7 linked regions of the Homo sapiens genome follow. The protein of the gene in region 1 purifies or fractionates together with the protein of each later gene. This does not show direct contact. Each region holds a gene or a part of one and is shown in the gene's direction. Other genes may lie near its edges.

Evidence for each region.
Region 2: the proteins of AP1G1 (region 1) and UBA1 fractionate together in Homo sapiens (co-fractionation; 2 studies listed by BioGRID). This does not show direct contact.
Region 3: the proteins of AP1G1 (region 1) and MYRF fractionate together in Homo sapiens (co-fractionation; one large-scale study listed by BioGRID). This does not show direct contact.
Region 4: the proteins of AP1G1 (region 1) and OSBPL11 fractionate together in Homo sapiens (co-fractionation; one large-scale study listed by BioGRID). This does not show direct contact.
Region 5: the proteins of AP1G1 (region 1) and CAP2 fractionate together in Homo sapiens (co-fractionation; one large-scale study listed by BioGRID). This does not show direct contact.
Region 6: the proteins of AP1G1 (region 1) and PLEKHA7 purify together in Homo sapiens (co-immunoprecipitation; one large-scale study listed by IntAct). This does not show direct contact.
Region 7: the proteins of AP1G1 (region 1) and NECAP2 purify together in Homo sapiens (affinity purification with mass spectrometry; 3 studies listed by BioGRID and IntAct, with this or other methods). This does not show direct contact.

The regions. Positions count from the first base shown.
Region 1 is NC_000016.10:71,728,835-71,732,334, reverse strand, and holds the end of AP1G1 (AP-1 complex subunit gamma-1), read left to right. Parts: 3' UTR 1-3,335; downstream 3,336-3,500. UniProt on the Homo sapiens protein: Subunit of clathrin-associated adaptor protein complex 1 that plays a role in protein sorting in the late-Golgi/trans-Golgi network (TGN) and/or endosomes.
Region 2 is NC_000023.11:47,213,229-47,215,628, forward strand, and holds the end of UBA1 (ubiquitin-like modifier-activating enzyme 1), read left to right. Parts: intron 1-1,098; coding exon 1,099-1,200; intron 1,201-1,308; coding exon 1,309-1,409; intron 1,410-1,565; coding exon 1,566-1,701; 3' UTR 1,702-1,900; downstream 1,901-2,400. UniProt on the Homo sapiens protein: Catalyzes the first step in ubiquitin conjugation to mark cellular proteins for degradation through the ubiquitin-proteasome system.
Region 3 is NC_000011.10:61,769,636-61,773,135, forward strand, and holds part of MYRF (myelin regulatory factor isoform 2 precursor), read left to right. Parts: intron 1-610; coding exon 611-890; intron 891-1,864; coding exon 1,865-2,115; intron 2,116-2,193; coding exon 2,194-2,317; intron 2,318-3,500.
Region 4 is NC_000003.12:125,578,498-125,581,997, reverse strand, and holds part of OSBPL11 (oxysterol-binding protein-related protein 11), read left to right. Parts: intron 1-1,957; coding exon 1,958-2,133; intron 2,134-2,958; coding exon 2,959-3,038; intron 3,039-3,500. UniProt on the Homo sapiens protein: Plays a role in regulating ADIPOQ and FABP4 levels in differentiating adipocytes and is also involved in regulation of adipocyte triglyceride storage. Weakly binds 25-hydroxycholesterol. Interacts with OSBPL9 to function as lipid transfer proteins.
Region 5 is NC_000006.12:17,540,095-17,543,594, forward strand, and holds part of CAP2 (adenylyl cyclase-associated protein 2), read left to right. Parts: intron 1-878; coding exon 879-1,054; intron 1,055-2,742; coding exon 2,743-2,866; intron 2,867-2,966; coding exon 2,967-3,049; intron 3,050-3,500. UniProt on the Homo sapiens protein: Involved in the regulation of actin polymerization.
Region 6 is NC_000011.10:17,004,415-17,007,914, reverse strand, and holds part of PLEKHA7 (pleckstrin homology domain-containing family A member 7), read left to right. Parts: intron 1-3,500. UniProt on the Homo sapiens protein: Required for zonula adherens biogenesis and maintenance. Acts via its interaction with CAMSAP3, which anchors microtubules at their minus-ends to zonula adherens, leading to the recruitment of KIFC3 kinesin to the junctional site.
Region 7 is NC_000001.11:16,450,724-16,454,223, forward strand, and holds part of NECAP2 (adaptin ear-binding coat-associated protein 2), read left to right. Parts: intron 1-1,114; coding exon 1,115-1,292; intron 1,293-3,500. UniProt on the Homo sapiens protein: Involved in endocytosis.

The DNA.
Region 1 (3,500 bases):
GTGCTCTATTTGTAATAGAAACTTCCAAGGCTCTTCCAGCTCCCCTTTCTCGCCATTCTTTAGCTGTAGTCATGAATAGTCTCCATGATTTTCAAAATTGATTCCCTTTAAAGTGCAAAATGGTCACCTTCTAAAAGATATATTCATAGTTATTAATGACCCTATTCCCACCACAAATTTTAAAGTGCTCCTAAGCCCATAACTTGCCTGTTTGAACTATGGTAATGGGTGGAAGAGGAGTTCACCAGTTTCAAAGATCAGACTCTGTATCAAAAGTACCTTTGCCCTTAGGAAGAGTGAGTATTGGAGTCATCTTATCTATTACTCCAAACCTCCCTTTTTATTTCTTGAGCCTGGCTTGGACCTTGGCATTCCGTTTGAATTCCTTCTAACTGGAACATTTGTGTTGTATCTGTAACACTGGCACTGAAATAAAGACCACACGGTTAAAGAAATCTTTCCATATTGTACTTTATGGTGTTGGAGTGAAGCCTTGTAGCTTCCATACCCCTATGTCAGAGGAGGTCTTACGGACACCATAGGGTAGGAATAGCCTTTCCTCAGTCTGAGAAATTGGTCTCTTTTAAAAGACGAATCTCATGAATATTCACATCAAAGACTTGAGCTTTTTAAACTAGTGAGAGTGCCAAGTGCTTTTTAGAAAGGACCCATATGTTATCAAACTTTGAAATTGAGTTGCTGGAATGAAGTAGAGGTGACTCTCTCTGTGGTACACATTGAATGTACTATGTATGTTCAAGTATTCAGGCGCCATGTCTTATATACTGAAGAAAGAAAAAGTGAGGCCCACCTTGCTCTTACAATGTTTGCAATTGTTACTGTATTGAATACAGTATAATGACTACTATGGCTTCAATCTTAAACCTGGAAACAAATATCCCTTTTTTTCCCCTTCATTTCACCAAGCCTTTACTTAAAATCTTCAGTGTCTTGTCAAATCTAGCTCTGTATCAGATGCTGGAATATTCCTAACATTTGACAAACTGGAGTTGAACTAAAGGCTCCACGGGAAAGTTTCTGGTCTTACTAGTGTGTATGAGCAAGATCTGCTAAAACTTACTCCACTGGGTAAATGGTTGACTGAGTCAAGAACAGGATAATATCTCCTGCATAGTTTTCAGTAATGTAAGTGTGGACTAGTGCATATTTCAGACAACTGCTCTGCCTGTGCAATGAAAAATAGCCTTTAAGGGTTTCTTTGCAGACTGATTTCATTGGATGGATACTTAATGCTGTGAAACATGATAGGATTAACATAATGTTGGTGGATTTCTTGAATAGAATTTGTCTTAACATTCCTCTTTGTGTAGAGGCTTTATTTTCTCTCTTATATTTGTAGCTAACCAGCTCAGGTTTTTTTATTTGAACTGGGTTGAATCTCTGAAGAAATCTGTTCAAGACCATGCTATAAGACACTGTCAGCTAATGGAGCTGGGAAGGGTCTACTCTGCTGACAGAGCATTTCCTTGGGTGATCATAGTTTCGAGGTAGAGTTTATGATCATTCATAGCTTTGTCTAGAAGGAGTAAAATATCATGGCCTTAACACAAAGGGTGCTGCGTAGAATATGAATTGATTTTGGAATCAGAACACAAGCACCATACTGAAGGACTAGCAGCCAAATAACTGCCTAGGATACTGATGGTTGTGAAGACTGTTTCAAATGATTGGATCTTTGAAAGCTTCAGCGTGCCTTAGTTTCTAGGATCAGAATTAGTTTTCCTCTCACTTGGCCTTGCAGCTAAATGGAGAAATGTTTCAATTTCTTTGAATACTTGCACATTTCAATAATTCCTTTCCCGAGTATAACCACTCAAGGGGGAGCAAATTTGGATGGATTTACGACTTCACAGGCATTGTGAGGAAAGAGCATTTTCCAAGGCTGTTTTGATAACCCTGGGGTGATAAGCAGTGAGCCCTCACACACTTACTTTGACAATTTCACATGCACTTGTACTTCATTATTTCCCTCTTCAAGAGTCGTTTCTATTCTAGTTTCTGCCCCATCCCGGGGAATCCTAAAGGAGAATTAATTCATCTAAGTAATCTCAAAAAACTGTAGGAAGGGTGCTCTCCCTGAGAAGCTTCTCCCACAGTGCTTTGGTGCTGTTACCTTGAGGTGGTTTGGACAGTCACGGAAGTTTTAGGCTGTGCATAGTGATCATCTGTTAATTTTAAGGTCTTTATCATTTAAAGAAACATTCCTCAGTGTAACATTTGGGAGGGGATTCTTTCCTCTTGCTAGTTTAAAGGTGTGATTTGTACTCCTTGTTTGTCCCATTCATATATGAAAATAGACTTTTAAAACTGTCCAACACTAATGGTTTATATAACATGCTTCCCATTTTTTTTATGTCGTAGAAATTGGAAGTTAGGGAGTACTGCTTTCAAGGTTCAACTTCATTATCTTCTGCATTGGAAAATATTTGGGCCATGAGAACTAGGGGAAAGGAGTTTGAATGTGTCTATTTTTTTCTAGTGAATGTATTTTAACCACAGTGTCCTAAACTGAGAAAACTAGAGAGGAAAAAGTGGGTGTTCATGAACTTTGTAGTTGGGAGAGTGGTTTTACATGTCTGTGTATTCATGACTTTGGGAGTGGGTAGGATCATTGGAGAGAGAATTGCACAGAAAGTCCTGAAGTTTAAAACACTTTTGACCAGCTTTGGCTCGGGAGAGTGGGGCTGCTTGTAGAACTGGAAGTGAATAACTTTTTCAAGCAATATCAGTGAGTGGGTCCCATCGACAGGGTTCCAGGACCTGGAACACTTTAACAGAAGGAAATGCCGAAGCAGCTTGCACAGTTGCTTTACAGACTTCCAAGAGGCTGATTCTGGCTTCAAGATGGAGCCTTGGAGTTGGTTTTTTTTTTTTTTTTTTTCTTCCCTCAAAGAACCTGCGGTTGCGCTTTGTGTGTTTTGTTTTTGTTTTCCATTTGGGGGCCCCATGGGAAAGAGCTTCTGAACTCTTTCCTTTATGAACTCCCACTGTGTTCCTATAAAGGCCCTTTTCTTTCTTAGTGTTGTAAGTTACATTTTCATTATGCCCCATCACATCTTCTTTACTGTAAAAATATTAAAAAGCTGTTTCCAAGTGGGACAGCTAATGAAGCTCTAATTATTGCAGACATATTTTTGAGATGTAAAAAAAAAAATTTAAAGTTAAATGATAAGTCTTAGAGGCGAGTGAGGAATAAAATGGATGTAAACATTTACATGGGATGCATTAGAATTCTGCTGTGTGTACTGTCTTTTGGTTGAAACAAATTATGAACAGTGACTAATAATAAAAAGTCAATACCCAATGATTTAAAATTTGCTTCCTTGCTTCTTACAATTGGATTAGAAGACTTAGATGAATTCTTATTCCAGAGGTTGAGCTAACTTACTGACCTGTTAGTATTCCTTTCACACATAAGTCTCACCAAGAGAGGAATTTGAATCACTTAAAAACTTGTAGCCAGGCGCGGTGGCTCACGC
Region 2 (2,400 bases), on another chromosome or scaffold:
AGATCTGGTTCTGATTCACGTCATACCCTGTCACCAGGTGAGGGTTTCTGTCTGTGTACCTACCCTTTTTGTGTATCCTTTTTCACTTATTCATTAATCACATTATTTGAGTACGTGCGAAAAGATGGGATATTTGAATTGTGCCCTGGGAGATTATTAGTAACTACACAATAATGGCAGCCAAAATTTATTGGACGCTTCCTACACTTAAGTGCTTTGCTTGCTTCATTAATGAATTCACTCAAATATTTATTGAGCACCTTTTGTGTGCAGGGACTCTTCTAAGTTATGTTCCTCAAGTAGATTATATAAATAACCTATTAAATGATTTTGGAATCAAAAAAGGATAAAAAGAGGCCGGGCGTGGTGGCTTACGCCTGTAATCCCAGCACTTTGGGAGGCCGAGGCACGTGGTTCACCTGAAGTCAGGAGTTTGAGACCAGCCTGGCCAACATGATGAAACCCTGTCTCTACTAAAAATACAAAAAATTAGCCAGGCGTAGTGGTAGGCACCTGTAATCCCAGCTACTCGGGAGGCTGAGGCAAGAGAATCACTTGAACCCGGGAGGCGGAGGTTGCAGTGAGCCAAGATGGCGCCATTGCACTCCCGCCTGGGTGACAGAGCGAGACTGCATCTCAAAAAAAAAAAAAGATAAAGAGGACTTGAGAATACCAGGGGGCGAGGGGATGTATTTGAGATTTTGTGTAGGATGGTCAGAAAAGGCCTTGCTGAAAAGATGACATTTGAGATCAGACTTGGAGGATGTAAGGGGACAAACTGTGCAGGCTTGGTGGCGAGTGGGGACACATTCCAGGCAGAGGGACCAGTTCTTGAAAGGGTACCAAGATAGGGGTGTGCCTGGCAAGTTGGAGGAATTCAAAGTCCCCAGAGTGAGTGTGAGATTGAGGAGGGTAGGAGATGAGAAGAAAACAGAATTTCATTGCTTAGGGTGAGATAGGAACCACAAGAGGATTTCGAACAAAAGAGGGTTGTGATCTGACTAAACACGTCTGCATGGGGGTAGGGGGGATGGAGACAGATGGGGGCTGGACCCTCTGGGATGGTCTCCATCTTACACTCCCCTCTTTGTCTTGCAGTACTATAACCAAGAGTGGACATTGTGGGATCGCTTTGAGGTACAAGGGCTGCAGCCTAATGGTGAGGAGATGACCCTCAAACAGTTCCTCGACTATTTTAAGGTAAGGCCCCTCCCTTACTCTGTCACCCCACCTCAGGGGGCGAGGTGTACACGGTGACTTGCTGGCCTGTCCACCTCCATGACCCTGCTGTTCCCCCTCCCTCTCCAGACAGAGCACAAATTAGAGATCACCATGCTGTCCCAGGGCGTGTCCATGCTCTATTCCTTCTTCATGCCAGCTGCCAAGCTCAAGGAACGGTTGGATCAGCCGTGAGTTGGACACTGGCCAGGCTAGGGGAGGCCCTGTATGGGTTGGGGAGCCTCATCATCCAGCTGTCCCACTCCAGTTCACTGCCCCTACCTACCTGCCCATCCTCTCTTGCTTTCTGCCCTCCTGACCCTATACTCCCATCCCCCTATCCCCAGGATGACAGAGATTGTGAGCCGTGTGTCGAAGCGAAAGCTGGGCCGCCACGTGCGGGCGCTGGTGCTTGAGCTGTGCTGTAACGACGAGAGCGGCGAGGATGTCGAGGTTCCCTATGTCCGATACACCATCCGCTGACCCCGTCTGCTCCTCTAGGCTGGCCCCTTGTCCACCCCTCTCCACACCCCTTCCAGCCCAGGGTTCCCATTTGGCTTCTGGCAGTGGCCCAACTAGCCAAGTCTGGTGTTCCCTCATCATCCCCCTACCTGAACCCCTCTTGCCACTGCCTTCTACCTTGTTTGAAACCTGAATCCTAATAAAGAATTAATAACTCCCACATCGCCTGCCCTGCTGGTTCCAGGGAAGGAAGGGACTTCCTGGAGCTGTCTGGTTCAGATGATAACTCAGAGGGCTCAACCCCACCACACCTGCCAGTTTTCTGGACAAAGAAAATGTAATTGCCACCTCTTCCTGCCCTCTCTGCCTAGGAAGAGATGGAGGCACCAGTGAGGCCATAGTGAGCAGGTACTTGGGTCCATGTGACTGTTAATTTGAGCTGGGTTCAATTCTCACCTTCTCCATGTCCTAACTCCTTGCTCTGTGAAGAGGAAAGTTACGGTGACCAGGCTGCTAGGGCATGGCCAGCGTGCCTTATGTCCTTAGGGCAGATCCCCTCCCACCTGGCTCAAAGCACTCAGACCCTGGGCAGCCTTTTGTGGTCATGGTTCCCAGCACCAGGAATGCCTGTGCTGCTCTTAGTTCAATTTCCTTGCTGCAGGGGTGTCTTAAACAGCTCTGCCGAATGCCAGTGCCTGCAGGCATACTTCGTGATTTTTA
Region 3 (3,500 bases), on another chromosome or scaffold:
CCGGGCCCACCTCACCTTAGAGGGTGCTCAGGGGTGCCCTGGCCCCCAGGTGGCCAAGAGCAGAACCACCGCGGGAGCAGGCTCCCCGCAGTCCGGATTGGGGTCAAGAGTTCTGTTTATCTTACCAAAAACATCCCTGGAATGCCTCCTGGGGAACAAAGGGAGCTGGGGCCTCCCCGCTCAGGCTGGGGGGCTGGCCCCTGAGAGCCCAGAAGAGGGACTGCCTGCCGGAGAGGGGAACACTGGGCAGGCCTGGGCTGGGGGTCTCCGGAGACGCCTTCCTGAGGCCCAGAGGAGGAGCAGGCCTCAGAGGAGATGGGGACGGAGGGGGACCTTTAGATTTGGGTTGGATTCTCCTGGTCCAGCCTGGGGGCAGGAGGTGGCTAGGATGAGGTGAAAGGCTGCCCCTCCTTGGGCAGGTTTGTGCCTCCCTGCCCAGGCCTCTAGTAGGTGGCTGACCAACGGCCCTCCCACCTAGGGTAGGTGGGGGGCAGCCCCCGGGCTTGGCTCAGGACGGGGTGGAAGCAGGAGACTCTGCCTTGGGGAGGACAGTGCCCAGGAGCCTGAGTGAGGTTGGTCTCAGATGCCCGCTCCCCCATCTCTCCTGCAGAGCCCCACCTCCTGCGCACGATAACCCCTGAGACACTGTGCCACGTGGGAGTGCCCTCCCGCCTGGAGCATCCGCCCCCACCTCCAGCCCACTTGCCAGGCCCCCCGCCACCCCCACCACCCCCACCTCACTACCCTGTCCTGCAGCGGGATCTGTACATGAAGGCCGAGCCCCCGATCCCCCACTACGCTGCCATGGGGCAGGGGCTGGTGCCCACTGATCTTCACCACACCCAGCAGTCCCAGATGCTGCACCAGCTCCTGCAGCAGCACGGAGCTGAGTAAGACGTGGGTGGCTGGCTCCATGGGGTGGGAAGGTGGGGTACAGGGACCAGGGTGGGCAGGGCGGCGGGCAGGCCAGAGAGGGAGGTAGGGACCGGGATGCACCCAGGGAGGGCAGAAGGCTCTGCAGGGCAGATGGGGGTAACATATTTATACATGTTTACCCAGCAATACCTTGAGGGGTTTACAGCCATGGCTAATTGCTCACAACTACCTTATCTGGTGGGCACAGGTAGGTAAACTGAGGCTCTGATGGGGGAAATGTCCCGTCCAGATCATGAGCCAGGGGCAGAGCCAGGACTGGGCCCGGGGCTGTGCTCTTACCCAGACCCCAGTGATTTTGCAGCTGTCTCATGGAACCCTCAGGTTTCTGAGGAGTCTTCTTCCTAGACCCAAGCCCCCGACTCTGACTCAACCTGCACGATTGTCTTTTCATCTGTTTTACATGTGGAGATTCCATGAAAGGTTTAGTTCAAAGGAAGGTTCTGCTGTCAAAACATTTTGTAAACCAGAAGGGGAAGGAGTGCCGTGCGGAAGCTCCCCTTCCCTGGTTTTTGTGGCCCAGGCCCTCTGTGGCTTGTTTCTGATCACAGGGCCTGCTCTCCATAGAGCCCCCACTATAAAGGGTGACCTTGAGTGTGACACTGCAGGCAGGGACAAACTCATTCATTCCTCAAGCGATTGCTGTGATTCTGTAAGCCAGCCCTGTTGCTGGGCATGATGGAGACACCAAGTCAGGTGTGGCTCCTGTCCACAGTCTGGGGGAAGCGAAGAGTGACAGAAGCAGAAAATGACAGCACAGAGCAATGGGGAGTAGGAGGAGGCAAAGCCTGAGGGCTTCCTGAAGGAGGTGTCCTCTGGGCGGGGCACATCCTGGCCCAAACAGGCTAGAGAGGGGAGAGAGGTGGATACTACCCAGTGGGAGGGGCTCGGGGAGAGCCAGCCCCCACGGCGCACACTTCTGTTTCCCCAGGCTCCCTACACACCCCTCCAAGAAGAGGAAGCACTCTGAATCCCCCCCCAGCACCCTCAATGCCCAGATGCTGAATGGAATGATCAAACAGGAGCCTGGGACCGTGACAGCCCTGCCTCTGCACCCCACTCGAGCCCCATCGCCACCCTGGCCTCCCCAGGGTCCGCTCTCCCCGGGCCCTGGTTCCTTGCCTCTCAGCATTGCCCGTGTCCAGACACCGCCTTGGCACCCGCCAGGTGCCCCCTCCCCAGGTACATGGCTGGCCAACTCTTCAAGGTGGGGTGTGGGACCCAAGGTGCAGGGCCCACATGGGCGTTCCCTCCCTCCAGGCCTCCTGCAGGACAGTGACAGCCTCAGTGGCTCCTACCTGGACCCCAACTACCAGTCCATCAAGTGGCAGCCTCATCAGCAGAACAAGTGGGCGACCCTGTACGATGCTAACTACAAGGAGCTGTGAGTGCCCTACAACACTCCCCACTCCTCCAGGCCCCCCCACCTTGGGACGCCCCAGCCCAGGACCCCATCAAGGTCCTGGAGCAGGGCCTGGGAGCACTCATTTCACAGAAGAGCAAACAGGCTCAGGGAAGAGCCAGGACTGGCAGTCAGGGCTCCTGACTCCTAGGCCAGCCCCAGGCCTCCCTGAGAAGGTGATGACTGCCAGGGAGGGGCAGCTGGGAACCAAGTCAGGGAGAAGTGGGCAGATGGGTGTTTTTTCCCCCGGTTCCTCCTTCCCCACCTCCTCCCTCTGCATTCCAGGAAGGTAGCCGGAAGCTGAGCCCAAGCTGGGCCCTCCCGGCAGCCCCCTCCCTAGAGGGAGGGAGGAGGGGCTGGGGAGGATCCGGTCAGAGGCTGCCTGAGCATTCCTAGCACCCCCTCAACACCCAGATGGCTCCATCTTTCCAGGCCGCAGGCCGGGAGCCCTGTGGGGACCACTCCCCTGGCTCACCCAGAAGGCCAGTGGGCAGGTGACAGGGTAACTGTGGATATTGCCAGGCCTGGGCCAGTGGATTAGACCAGCTGCATGGAGTTGGGTGCTCCAGGCTTTGGGGGAATTCTTAGCCAGCAGTCCCAGGCCTGGGGGCATCTGGCTGCTGGGGTGGCTGAAGGGTCCCATGAAGTCCTGCCAGGTGGGGGTGCAGTCGTATGGCACTCCAGCCTCTCTGGCATGGGGAGGAAACCCCTTACTCTTACTGCCATACTCTTTGGGCCACCCTTGCCACCCCAGGCCCCAAGGCCAGGAAGCTTGGCAGCTGCAGCCCCGGAAGTGGCCCAGGCACTTCCTGGGTGCTTTGCTAGGTCAGGCAGGTGGGTGGAGCTCCAGGAGGGAAGAGGTGGTGAGCCCAGGCCTTTGGCAACACTGGCCAGGCCCAGAGGCCTCTTCCCACAAGTTTGGAAGCATTCTCCCTGCCCAGCTTCCGCCAGGCCAGCACTGGGCACTCCTGTGACCACTCTTGTGCCTGGGGACCTGAGTGAGGGTGCGCTAAGCCACAGGCCAACAGTTGCTCTTTTTTTTTTTTTTTTTTTGAGACAGGGTCTTGCTCTGTTGCCCAGGCTGGAGTGCAATGGCATGATCTCTGCTCACTGCAACCTCCGCCTCCTGGGTTCAAGCAATTCTCCTGCCTCAGCCTCCCAAGTA
Region 4 (3,500 bases), on another chromosome or scaffold:
TTAATTAATTAATTAATTATTTTTGAGACAGGGTCTTGCTCTGTTGCCCAGGCTGGAGTATAGTGGCATGATCTCAGCTCACTGTAACCTCCACCTCGGGCTGAAATCATCCTCCTGCCCCAGCCTCCTAAGTAGCTGGAGCTACAGGCATGCACCACCACACCCATCTAATTTCTGTATTTTTTTTTGTAAAGACAGGGTTTTGCCATGTTGGCCAGACTGGTCTCGAACTCCTGGATTCAAGCAATCTCAACTCATCCAGCCCTTTTTAGAGTTACTTTTTTTTTTTTTTTTTTTTTTTTGAGATGGAGTCTCACTCTGTCACCTAGGCTGCAGTGTAGTGGTGCAATCTCAGCTCACCGCAACCTCTGCCTCCAGGGTTCATGTGATTCTTCTGTCTCAGCCTCCCAAGTAGCTGGGATTACAGGTGCACGCCACCTCGCCCAGCTAGTTTTTTGTATTTTAGTAGAGACGGGGTTTCACCGTGTTGCCCAGCCTGGTCTCAAACTCCTAAGCTCAGGCAGTCCACCCGCCTTGGCCTCCCAAAGTGCTGGGATTACAGGTGTGTGCCACCGTGTCTGGCCTAGCGTTCCTTTTTTAAAAAGGGGCCAGATGAGGTGACTCACACCTGTAATCCAAGCACTTTGGGAGGCCGAGGCGGGAGGATCGCCTGAGTTCAGGAGTTTGAGATCAGTCTGGCCAACATGGCAAAACTCCATCTCTACGAAAAATACAAAAATTAGCTGGGCATGGTGGTGGGCGCCTGTAATCCCAGGTACTTGGGAGCTGAGGCATGAGAATCGCTTGAACCTGGGAGGCAGAGGTTGCAGTGAGTCAAGGTGGTGCCACTGCACTCCAGCCTGGGCAACAGAGCACGACTCCATCTCAAAAAAAAAAAAAATTATTACACTACTTAAATTGGAATTTCTGAAATGTATTTTTGAAAGTAGTTAATCTAGAACCAAATCAGAATTTTTTTTTCCAAAGTGTATTAGTATTTCATCAAATTCTTTTCCAGAGTGTATCAGCATTTCATCATTTAGTTTCAAGGTCCTTATGTTTCAGCATCTCCAATTGCAGCTTTTTCATTTTTAAACAGGAGAAGTAATCTTTAGTTTTGACTTATTTAATGATTCATTCACAAAATCTTTTTTACCCTGTTATTCTTGTTGTATATTTCACTAATTCTTAAATCACAATGCATATCTTGCCTAGTATATCTTGCCTTAACCTCAGAGCTCATATTTTGATTTATTTCCGGTGAATTTTAAAGAAAAATTTTCACTACCATTTGTCCTTTGGCAGTTTACCCTCTGTTAATGAATTCTGGGGAAAAATCTGTCTCTGAAAGGATATGGTATCTTTGCTTCCTTTTGTGCATTAACTGATAGGCCTCTTAATAAATGCCTCTCCCTCAGCTGAAGGGTTTATTATATCTTTTATTAAACTCATTCAATTTTTTTTTTTTTTTTTTTTTTTTTTTGAGACGGAGTTTTGCTCTTTTTGCCCAGGCTGGAGTGCAGTGGCTCGATCTTAGTGCAGTGCAACCGCTGCCTCCCAGATTCAAGCGATTTTCCTGCCTCAGCCTCCCGAGTAGCTGGGATTACAGGCATGCACCACCACACCTGGCTAATTTTGTATTTTTAGTAGAGATGGGGTTTCACCATGTTGGCCAGGCTGATCTCGAACTCCTGACCTCAGGTGATCCGCTCGCCTCTGCCTCCCAAAGTGCTGGGATTAGAGGCGTGAGCCACTGCGCCTGGCCTAACTCATTCGATTTTTAGTAATCTTCCCTGCTGGAAAATTCAGTGTAGTGTTTCCAGGTACCTCTTGAAATGCTTTTAAATTTTATTTTTAAGAGCAAAACCCTGAAATGTGTAAGTGATTGAAGTTTGCTTTGCTTTAGTTTGCTGAGGGAAAATGTTTACAAATTATGGATTTTAAAAAATCATTACAGGTTTTTTGTTTTAAACAATGAAGCTGGGCTGTTGGAGTACTTTGTGAATGAACAGTCTAGAAATCAGAAACCTAGAGGAACTTTGCAGCTTGCAGGAGCTGTAATATCACCCAGTGATGAGGATTCTCACACCTTCACTGTAAACGCTGCCAGTGGGGAACAATATAAACTCAGAGGTATGACCAAAATATGAGAATTAATACTGTGATTTTCCTCTTTTTTTGAGAAGTTGGTGTCTTACATGCTTTCATATGGGCTTTGGAAATAGAAACTGCTGTCATCAGTGATGTAAATACAATATTCTGAACCTTGGAACTGCTTTGAGAATTTATGAAATCTTTTGTAATAAGTAACTGTTTTCAAGTGGGACAATGTATGTTTGTTTAGGACTGGCCCCTCTGAAAAACGGTGTAGGTGAAACTCTGATTACTGAAAATCTAGAAACATAGACTTTAAATGATATTTTTTATGTATTTCACCCCTTTACTTGGTTTAGTTTACGTGCCCTTTTTGCAGTTTTCAGTAACTAATGTACATTATTGGGATTTATTATAATGTCATTCATTAAAATAACGTATAACTTCTGTTAAGATAAATTTAATTTGTGTAGAAGTTTTTTATTTAATGAATACACAAAGTATAATGGTAATCCTAAGTGAGCGTGCTCCTGCAGATCTGAAAGTATTGATTATACATCAAATAATTAAGGGGTTATTTCTTTAAATAAGAACCTATTTTTATGAGTTGCAACATGTCAGTCTCTCATCCTCACCTCACTGCATGTAATTTCTCCTTTTAATGAAGTAACTACATCCAGCTACTGTGTTCCCTAACAACGTTGGTGCTTTGGCCTCTTTCCTGCCTCCCTCCAGTCAGGGAAGTTTGCTCTAGTGAGAGTAAGACCAGTATCTGCTTTTCAGTGATCTGATCTTCATACTGTAGGCAATTAATTGTGTTCCAGAATAAATAAATATAAAATAATTTTTACATTCTTTTAACAGCTACAGATGCAAAAGAGCGACAGCACTGGGTTAGCAGACTTCAGATATGTACACAGCATCATACTGAAGCTATTGGAAAGGTATGTAGATTTATATACAATATTAATATACAAAAATGAGGAAGGAATATTTTTTATTTTTTGCCTTTTAAAATTGAGATACTATTCATATACCGTAAAATTCACCCTTTTAAAGTATATACGTATAATCCTGTGGTTTTTAGTATATTCACAAGGTGGTTCAACCATTGTAACTTTCTTTTTTTTTTTGAGACGGAGTCTCTCTCTGTGGCCCAGGCTAGAGTGCAGTGGCGCAATCTTGTCTCACTGCAACCTCTGCCTCCCGGGTTCAAGTGATTTTCCTGTCTCAGCCTCCCAAGTAGCTGGGACTACAGGCACACACCACCACACCCAGCTTATTTTTGTACTTTTAGTCAAGACAGGTTTCTTTACTAAAAAAAGTTGTTTCTTTACTAAAAATGTTGGCCAGGCTGGCCTCGAACTCCTGACCTCAAGTGATCCGCCCACCTTGGCTTCCCAAAG
Region 5 (3,500 bases), on another chromosome or scaffold:
GTGGCAAACATTAGCTCCTCTGTCCTGAAGCAGTGTACAGGCTTGTCAAAGAATTATATCCCACTATACTGGGCTTGGAGCTAAGAATCCAAAATTCTAAATTTTTCTCTGGCTCCAACTGGTTCTGCTGTGCCTTGTGAAACTCATTTGCAAAGTAAAGGAATGGATTCGTAAAGTCAATTCCATATCCTGATATATACTCACTGGAATGCCCTAACCTTTTAGGCTGTGTCTGGAGAATGATTTAGCCGTAAGAGAAGAAGTAAGACATGATCCTTTTTCGTGAGGTGGTTTGCTCTTTGCAGAATTTTTATCTATCATTTTATCTCCCAACAGAAGAGGTTCCTCAAATTAAAAAAAAAAAAAAAAATACTTGGCTGGTGCAGTGGCTCACGCCTGTAATCCCAGCACTTTGGGAGGCCAAGGAGGGTGGATCACCTGAGGTCAGGAGTTCAAAGACCAGCGTGGCCAACATGGTGAAACCCCATCTCTACTAAAAATACAAAAATTAGCTAAGCGTGTGGTGGTGCATGCCTGTAATCCCAGCTACTTGGGAGGCTGAGGCAGGAGAATCGCTTGAACCCAGGAGGCAGAGGTTGCAGTGAGCCGAGATCACGCCACTGCACTCCAGCCTAGGTGACAGAGCGAGACTCCATTTAAAAAACAACAACAACAACAACAACTTACAGTGCTTCTGTCAACTCTCAACTTGTACAGGACTCAGCTCCTGCATCCTGACTTGGAGAAAGCACTAGACTGTTTTGAAAGTGGCCTTACCAAAAGTTCTTGTGCTCTTTATTTACATCATGTTGATCTAGCAAGTTAGAGACATTTCCCTTTGCATAAAATAAATGTGTCCATGTGTGTTGTCCTCCTAGGGCTCCGCCATGTCACAGATGACCAGAAGACATACAAAAATCCCAGCCTGCGGGCTCAAGGAGGGCAAACTCAATCTCCCACCAAAAGTCACACTCCAAGTCCCACATCTCCTAAATCTTATCCTTCTCAAAAACATGCCCCAGTGTTGGAGTTGGAAGGAAAGAAATGGAGAGTGGTAAGTGAAGCATTTTAACCTTTATTTTCCTGACATGCGCCAATGAAAGGACCAACAGCCAAACCATTTACCAAGATCTGAAGGATTTCTTTTTTTTAATTTTTGTATTGGTACATAACATTTGTATATATTTATGGGGTACCTGTGATATTTTGTTACATGCGTAGAATGTGTAATGATCGGCACTTTGGGGGTTTGAGGTGGGAGGATCACCTGAGGTCAGGAGTTCGAGACCAGCCTGGCCAACATGGTGAAACCCTATCTCTACTAAAAATACAAAAATTAGCCGGGCATGGTGGCACGTGCCTGTAATCCCAGCTACTTGAGAGGCTGAGACAGGAGAATCACTTGAACCCGAGAGGTGGAGGTTGCAGCGAGCCGAGATCACGCCACTGCACTCCAGCCTGGGTGACAGAGTGAGACTCTGTCTCAAAAAAAAAGAATGGGTAATGATCAAGTCAGGATATTTAGGGTGTCCATTACCTTGAGTATTTATCATTTCTATGTGATGGAAGCATTTCAAGGCCTCTTTTCTAGCTATTTTGAAATATTTAAGACAGTGTTGTTAACTATATTTACCCTACTCTGCTGTCGAATTAGAATTTATTCCTTCTGACTATATGTTCGTACCCATTAACCACCAAGGTGAAGTGACAGAGGCAAAAACCACTGGCTAGAGTAGAAACCAGGGTGTTTCTGAATGCTTCCATAAACTTTATTTTCACAGGTTCTCATGCATTCTTTTCTTCAACTTTTTAAATTATTTTGTGAGTGGTGGTAAAATAGACGTAGCATAAAATGGACTGTTCACCATGTTTAACTGTCCAGCTCAGTGGCATTAAGTCTGTTCATATGGTTGTGCTGCCATCACCACCACCCACTACAGAACTCTTTTCATCTTGCAGAACCAAAAATCTGTACCCTTAACCAATAGCTCCCTGTTTCTCCCCCTGCACCCCTCCCAGCCCCTGGCAATTACCATTCTACTTTCTGTCTCTATGAATTTAGCTATTCTTTCTATAAGCTTTTAATCAGGCAGCAAGACAGACCGTTAATATATGGAACTGGGAAGTCTGTGCCCCACTCTGATGTGCTGTGAGATGTTTCGTTCAGTCCCATGGATGGAGGGATTGATACCTCTGTACCCTACTGCTGCCACCCCCCACTGCCCGGGCTAAGTGTGTGAGCAGGACATAGACACTTCAAATGGTAATGAAAGCTGGTGTCTCCTGCTGATCTGGAGGGCTTCCCTAAAGATGAAGGACCAAAGTCCCTGGAGAGTTGTCATCGCCTTGAAAACACAAGGGCTTAGACCACTGCTGTGACCCTTCACCAGCCTGTTTGCCCAACTCCTGTTTGACACAGCAGGTTTTGCTGCATCATCAAGTCCAGACTTGGCATCAAGGCCTCAACAAAAAGCTCTCACATCCCTGCTCCAGCCTCCCACCTGCTAGGGTGCCTGATACCTGATGTTTACAAAGAGATACTGACTTGCTTCCAAGAAGTGGTTCCGTTTTTCCCATCCTAACAATGACAGAGTAAGACCTGTGGTTTCATCTATAAGGAGATGGTTCCAAAAGAATATATTGCAAAGCCATACTTCATGCTGAGCTCGTACTAATTTCAGTGTGCAGTGGTTTCTGTTTATATATGCTGATGTTTAATATTTGTATTTGTCTTAATTCTAGGAGTACCAAGAGGACAGGAATGACCTTGTGATTTCAGAGACTGAGCTGAAACAAGTGGCTTACATTTTCAAATGCGAAAAATCAACTATTCAGATAAAAGGGAAAGTAAACTCCATTATAATTGGTAGGGCAGAATTATGGCTCTATGGTTATTATGATGTTTTATAAACAAGCTGTATGTATTTAGTGGAGTTGGTTTTTTGTTGTGTTTTTTCTCCCCACAGACAACTGTAAAAAACTCGGCCTGGTGTTTGACAATGTGGTGGGCATTGTGGAAGTGATCAACTCCCAGGACATTCAAATCCAGGTAAGCAGAGCCTTTCCAACCATGCTGTAATAAGCAGAGCCTTTCCAACCACGCTGTAATAAGCAGAGCCTTTCCAACCACGCTGTAGTAAGCAGCCTTTCCAACCACGCTGTAATAAGCAGCCTTTCCAACCACACTGTAAGCTGCGGCCTTGCACAGACCATCCACTCTGCCTCCAAGAAGCAGCCTTGCAGCCAGTCGCGGTGGCTCACGCCCGTAACCCTAGCACTTTGGGAGGCCGAGGTGGGCGGATCACGAGGTCAGGAGATTGAGACCATCCTGGCTAACACAGTGAAACCCTGTCTCTACTAAAAATACGAAAACAAAATTAGCTGGGCATGGTGGCAGGCGCCTGTAGTCCCAGCTACTCTGGAGGCTGAGGCGGGAGAATGGCGTGAACCCAGGAGGTGGAGCTTGCAGTGAGCGAGCCAAGATCGCGCCACTGCACTCC
Region 6 (3,500 bases), on another chromosome or scaffold:
TAAAAACTGCAATTACTTTTGCACCAACTGAATATCTTTAGGCCGGGCGTGGTGGTTCACACCCAGTAATCCCAGCACTTTGAATGGCCAAAGCAGGAGGATTGCTTGGGCTCAGGAATTTGAGACTAGCCTGGGCAACATGGTAAAACCCTATCTTTACAAAAAATACAAAACTTAGCCGGGTGTGATGGTGCATGGCCATAGTCCCAGCTATTAGGGAGGCTGAGGTGGGAGGATCACTTGAGCTTGGGAAGCGGAGGTTGCCGTGAACTGAGCTCACGCCACTGCACTCCAGCCTGGGCGACAGAATGAGACTCTGTCTCAAAAAAAAAAAAAAAAAGCATCTTTAGAGATCCTAAAATGTAAAATTTTGTTCTTCTGTAGTTTTTCCCTTGACTTGTCATTTAAAAAAAAATAAAATTGCTATTTATGGGCATGGTGGCGAGTGCCTGTAATCCCAGCTACTTGGGAGGCTGAGCCAGGAGGAACGCTTGAACCCAGGAGGTGAAGGTTGCGGTGAGCCAAGATTGCACCATTGCACTCCAGCCTAGGCAACAAGAGTAAAACTCTGTCTCAAAAAAAAAATTTTTTTTTCTATTTAATGTAATTCTACATAAAGAAAAATTAAGTTTAAATTATTAGCATAAATTTTATAGTTATTTCTATATTGTAGAATATAATGTTTTAAATGTGAATATCAGTGCATTTACCTCATATGCTAGGAGTTGCCACCACCATGCCCCACTCCAAGACACCATAGAGCACAAGCACCTGTATCCATGCCCCCCTGGGCAGCAGGGAGGAGCAGGGAGCCCAGGCAGGGCTTAGGGCTCCAGGAGGCTGGGAGTGGGCAGTTAAGAACCTGGTCCTCCGAGGCAGGGAGTGGGGACCAGGCATGAGTCCTTCAGAAGGTTACCTCTGGAGATAATGCCAAGTATCAAGGGTGTGTGTTTTGTATTCAGCAACCCATTTTTTAGTCTGAAATCAAAGGGAGTTGGAGAGTGAAGGATGAACCAAATGTGACAGATGTTCAGTTGGGGATTTTGTAGACACCAGGCCTAGAAGGCCCTTAGGAAAGCCAGTGAATACTGGACAGCCCAGGAGGCTGCCCTTAATTATGACCTCACCCAACCGACAGTCTTCTGGGCCACCCCTAGGAAGGAGTCTGTCCTGTCTTCTATATTTTCCTCCCTAGATAAATGTTGAACTTCATGGCAGTGAAATTTATCTTGTAGAATGTCAAACCTATTGATTCACTTATATATCATCTTCCTTTTTTTTTTTTTTTGAGACTGAGTCTTGCTGTGTCACCCAGGCTGGAGTGCAGTGGCGGCATCTCGGCTCACTGCACCTCTGCTTCCCGGGTTCAAGCGATTCTTCCACCTCAGCCTCCTGAGTAGCTGGGACTACAGGCATGCGCCACCATGCCTGGCTATTTTTTTGTATTTTTAGTACAGATGGGGTTTCACCATGTTAGCCAAGCTGGCCTTGAACTCCTAACCTCAGGCAATCCGCCTGCCTTGGCCTCCCAGAGTGCTAGGATTACAGGTGTGAGCCACCGTGCCTGGACGTTTTTTTTTTTTTTTTAGATGGAGTTTCATTCTTGTTGCCCAGGCTGGAGTGCAGTGGTGTGATCTCGGCTCACTGCAACCTCCGCTTCCCTTGTAGCTGGTGTTACAGGCGCCCACCACCATGCCCGGGTAATTTAGTAGAGACGGGGTTTCACATGTTGGTCAGGCTGGTCTTGAACTCCTGACCTCAGGCTGTCCACCCGCCTTGGCTTCCTAAAGTGCTGGGATTACAGGCATGAGCCACCATGCCCAGCCTTATTTGTCATCCTTCTTATTGAGATGTTGCTGGGAACAGCAGTCCCAGAAACTTTATTTCAAACCTGGGGGTAATAGTCCCACAAAGAATTTCTGGGAAACTAGCAGCTTACATATATACTAAAATAGAAATTCTGAACCCCCTCATTGAAGGTTAAGAAAGGTTTTCCCAGCTTGGCAAGTTTTGGCAGAATCCCATGCTTTATATTTCACTTCCTGGTTGCATTTTCAAGGGTAAAAACTGGTTCATGGATTTAAACGTTAGGTTCTGTGGGAAAGGAAAAACAGTGAGTGTTGTTTAGAAAGCGAAAGGAAGGATTAGGAGCCATGATTTATACCACATCTCCAAAAAGAAACTTCTTTAAGGAAACGTCTTTAAGAAAAATGGTTGCAAGTTGCTTTTTAAGGCTCTTTACCCATGAGAGGAGTGTGTTTTAGAGATAGGACAGATGCTGGGTTGGGAAGAGGTGTTTTCATGTGATGAGGGTGGGTGTAGGTTTCTTGTGCCTTGATGGCACCCTCTCCATTCTCTCTCTCTCTCTTTCTTTTTTTGTTTTGAGACAGAGTTTTGCTCTGTCACCTAGGCTAGACTGCAGTGGCATGATCTCAGCTCACTGCAACCTCTGCCTCCTGGGTTCAAGCAATTCTCTTGCCTCAGCCTCCTGGGTAGCTGGGATTACAGACACCCACCACCACGCCTGGCTAATTTTTGTATCTTTAGTAGAGACGGGGTTTCACCATGTTGGCCAGGCTGGTCTCAAACTCCTGACCTCAAGTAATCTGCCCACCTTGGCCTCCTGGAAGTGCTGGGATTACAGGCGTGGGCCACCGGGCCCAGCCTCCATTCTCTTTTGATGTCTATGGGAGTAAATTTGGTGCTTCCTAAATTGAGAACTTTGGAAAAAAATTAAGACAGCACTTTAAACAGAAACGTGTGCAGGGGCAGGGAGATGCCAGTTTACCCCCCCCGTTAAGTCTGAGGTGACAGAGGGCTGTAGGAAGACTGCTTGTTGGCTTTTCAGCCTCAATATGTGGAATATTTGGCAATTCAGTGAGGTACCTGCTCTTGTTTTCTATCTTCAGAGGACAGCACAGGTTTGAATCTCTTTGCTCAGTGTAAGACAGCATCATCTCAGCAAACTGGCAGGTATCTTAAGTAAATATTGGCAGAGGGAAAAACACGGAGGAATATGGTTGTATTTGCCTGTTGTTTTTAAATGGCTGTCAAAACATTTGCTTTTCAATTTTCTGAAATGAGAAATATTTTGAGTTAATGTTTTATCATTTACAGAGTATTTCACGAACATTCTCTGGTTTGTCCCATAATTATTGCATTTTTTTAGTGCGGGAATTTGGGCTCAGAGGGGTAAAGTGACTTCTCTAAAGTTGTATACTGGGCTGGGCATGGTGACTCATGCTTGTAATCCCAGCACTTTGGGAGGCCGAGGTGGGCAGATCACCTGAGGTCAGAAGTTTAAGACAAGCTTGGCCAATGTGGTGAAACCTCATCTCTACTAAAAATACAAAAATTAGCTGGGTATGGTGGTGCGTGCCTGTAATCCCAGCTACTCGGGAGGCTGAGGTAGGAGAATCACTTGAACCCAGGAGGCAGAGGTTACAGTGAACTGAGATTGCGCCATTGCACTCCAGCCTGGGCGACAAGAGTGAAACAGT
Region 7 (3,500 bases), on another chromosome or scaffold:
GATCACCTGAGGTCGGGAGTCCGAGACCAGCCTGACCAACATGGACAAACCCTGTCTCTACTAAAAATACAAAATTAGCCGGGCATGGTGGTCCATGGCTGTAATCCCAGCTACTCCGGGGGCTGAGGCAGGAGAATTGGCTTGAACCTGGGAGGTGGAGGTTGCAGTGAGCTGAGATCGAGCCATTCATTGCACTCCAGCCTGGACAACAAGAGCGAAACTCTGGCTCAAAAAACAAAACAAAACAAAACACCCAATTTATAAACTTGCACCTTGCTCAAGATGCAAAAGATTGTCAGCACTCTGGAAACACCTCTCCTGGCCCCTCCCAGTAACTGCCCTGAGTAACCCCATCCTGACTTCACATACCCTAGATTTTGTTTGTTCTTAACTTTCATGAATTGAATCATACACCTAATCTTGATTTGGAATGATTTCTTTCTTTTACTCAATGTAATTTTTGTGAGAGTCATCCATGGTGTTGCGTGTAGTTTGTTCATTCTCATTGTTGTGGCATGTACCATTGTGAGAATTCACCCGATTTATTTATGTTTTACTGATGATGGACATTTGGGTAGTTTCCAGTTTGGGGCGATTACAAATAATGCTGCTGTAGATGTTTGAGTTCATGTTTTTGGTGCATATATGTATGATTTCTGTTGGTTTATATCTAGGAGTGGAACTGCGGAGTCATAAGTTTAAGTTCCTATGTTGAGCTTTATAATCCTTTCAAATAATTTTTCAAAGTAGTTTTACCAGTTTACACTTAAGCCAGCAGCGCGTGAATGGTTACTTCATATCGTAGTCAATACTTGATAATCTACATTTTAGCCATTCTGGTGAGCGTGTAATGGTATATCATTATAGCTTTGATCTGCATTTCCCTGATGAATGAAGTGGGGGTGCTGGGTTTTAAAATGGACCTTATTTGTGAGAGATTCAGAATGATGATGCACTAAGTATAGCTCATAGCAATGGAGGTGCTAGGTAGGACCATCTTTTGGTTACACAGATGTTGGGGGTCTGGGGTCACCTTGGCCCTCCTTGTGGGGTTTTCTGGTAGCATTGGGACTCCAGCAGAACGGGCTGATTTGCATTCCTCTTCCCTCTTTAGAACATGAAGAAGAAGGAAGGAGCAGCTGGGAATCCCCGAGTCCGGCCTGCCAGCACAGGAGGGCTGAGCCTGCTTCCCCCTCCCCCAGGGGGGAAAACCTCCACCCTGATCCCTCCCCCTGGGGAGCAGTTGGCTGTGGGGGGATCCCTCGTCCAGCCAGCAGTTGCTCCCAGTTCAGGTTAGTGCTCAGTGGGTGACTGCTGCATCAGTACCTGCCGGCTCCTCTTCTCCCTGGCAGCCAGGCCCCATGGTTTCCCCCCCGTTACACACATGGATTGGTCATGTAGTACCTGTCCGTGTCAAAGAAGGCGGGCACCCAAAGCTCATTCTGCACACGCTGGGTAAGGGGCTCCTCCTACTTGGCCTTTAGGGCGTCTGCCCTCCCCTGAGAGGCCAGGGCTGCGACTTGTTAGTTACTGTGAAATCATCAACATGTCGGTTCCTGGTTCCCAGTGTCTGCTCAGTGGGTATTGAGTGAGTGGGTAATGGAGACACAGTCTCTGCTCACGTGTAGTGAGAGAGATGAGTCACAGCACAGAGACCAAATGTGTAGGGCCTAGACCCACCATCAGCTGCTGTGATCTGGAGAGGTTTCATGAAAGAGGTGACATTGATCTGGACCTTGAAGGAAGGAGATAGAGTGGGAGTGGTTGGCATTCCAGGCAGAGAGAAGAACACGAATGAGGCCCAGACTTTTAGACACCTGGTGTATTTAGGGAGATGGGTACAGCATAAGGTGTGCCAAGGTGAGTGGTGGGAAATGAGATTTCGTTTGGAGTGAGCACCTCGGGTGTGGGAATCTGAGAGCATTTGCCCTGGCAGTTTGTGCTGAGGAGCCCTTAGGAGACCCTGGGATTCCGGAAGCGAGTGTCTAGTGTCAGCTTCTGACCACGCTGGGGTGCCAGCCCTTTTCCTCTACCTCCCCGCGCGCCCCCCCCGCCCGCCGCCCCGCCCAGCCCAGCTTGATGCTCCTGGCCTTCCCCAGGCTGGGCGATTGTCACCAGCGTGCCTTCTGCACACAGCTCTCCCCAGCTTGCAGGCAGGAAGCCTTCCTGCTTTACTGATTCCTAAGCCTCCCCAACATTGGCTGCCCTATCTGGAGGTCAAGCTTCAGACTTCAGTCCTGTGGGGAGAGTGGCAGGAGGGGCAGTCAGAGAGCCCCGGCCCGGTACCAGGAACTGTTCTTTAAGTGCTATTTCTCAGAGTGGGGTCATAGGACCACTTGCTTTGGCATCGCTGGGGGATGGGGGCAAGAATCTGCATTCTTGTGTCTTTTTTTTTTTTTTGAAATGGAGTTTTTTTGCTCTTGTTGCCTAGGCTGCAGTGTAATGGTGTGATCTCGGCTCACTGCAACCTCTGCCTCCTGGGTTCAAGTGATTCTCCTGCCTCAGCCTCCTGAGTAGCTGGGATTACAGGCATGTGCCTCCACACCCAGCTAATTTTGTAATTTTAGTAGAGACAGGGTTTCTCCATGTTGGTCAGGCTGGTCTTGAACTCCCAACCTCAGGTGATCCGCCCGCCTCAGCCTCCCAAAGTGCTAGGACTACAGGCGTGAGCTACTGCACCCGGCCCTTATGTTTGTTCTTGTTTGTGTGTTGACTAAAGTCTGAGAGCTACTACCTTAGGCCTTCCTAAGCAACCAAGGTTGCTGATGGATATTTATTTATTTAAGATGGAGTCTTGCTCTGTCACCCAGGCTGGAGAGCAGTGGCATGTTCTCGGCTCACCGCAACCTCCACCTCCTGGGTTCAAGTGATTCTTCTGCTTCAGCCTCCTGAGTAGCTGAGATTACAGGCACGCACCACCACGCCCAGCTAAGTTTTGTATTTTTAGTAGAGACAGGGTTTCACTGTGTTGGCCAGGATGGTCTCGATCTCCTGACCTCGTGATCTGCCCGCCTCAGCCTCCCAAAGTGCTGGGATTACAGGCATGAGCCACCGTGCCTGGCCTTGCTGATGCATTTTTAACAGCATTTTAATTTTAATATGGTGCACTTGCTGTGTGCCAGGTAGAGTTCTAGGCACTGGTACGTATAGCATCCAGTTTCAGCTCTCAAGGGCTTGTTTTCTGGTGTCTGAGACAGGCAGTTAGCATGTCAACAAACAAAATGGTGTCAGATAATAAGTCATGAATATCAACATTTATGAAGCACTTACTATATGAACAATATGGTTGGGTTCAAATTTCAGCTTACTAGCTTTGTGATATTTATTTATTTATTTTTATTTTTTATTTTTGAGATGGAGTTTTTTGCTCTTGTTGCCCAGGCTGGAGTGTGATGGCGCAATCTCGGCTTACCACAACCTCTGCTTCCTGGGTTCAAGCGACTCTCCTGCCTCAGCCTCCCAAGTAGCTGGGATTACAGGCATGCGCCACCTCACGTGGC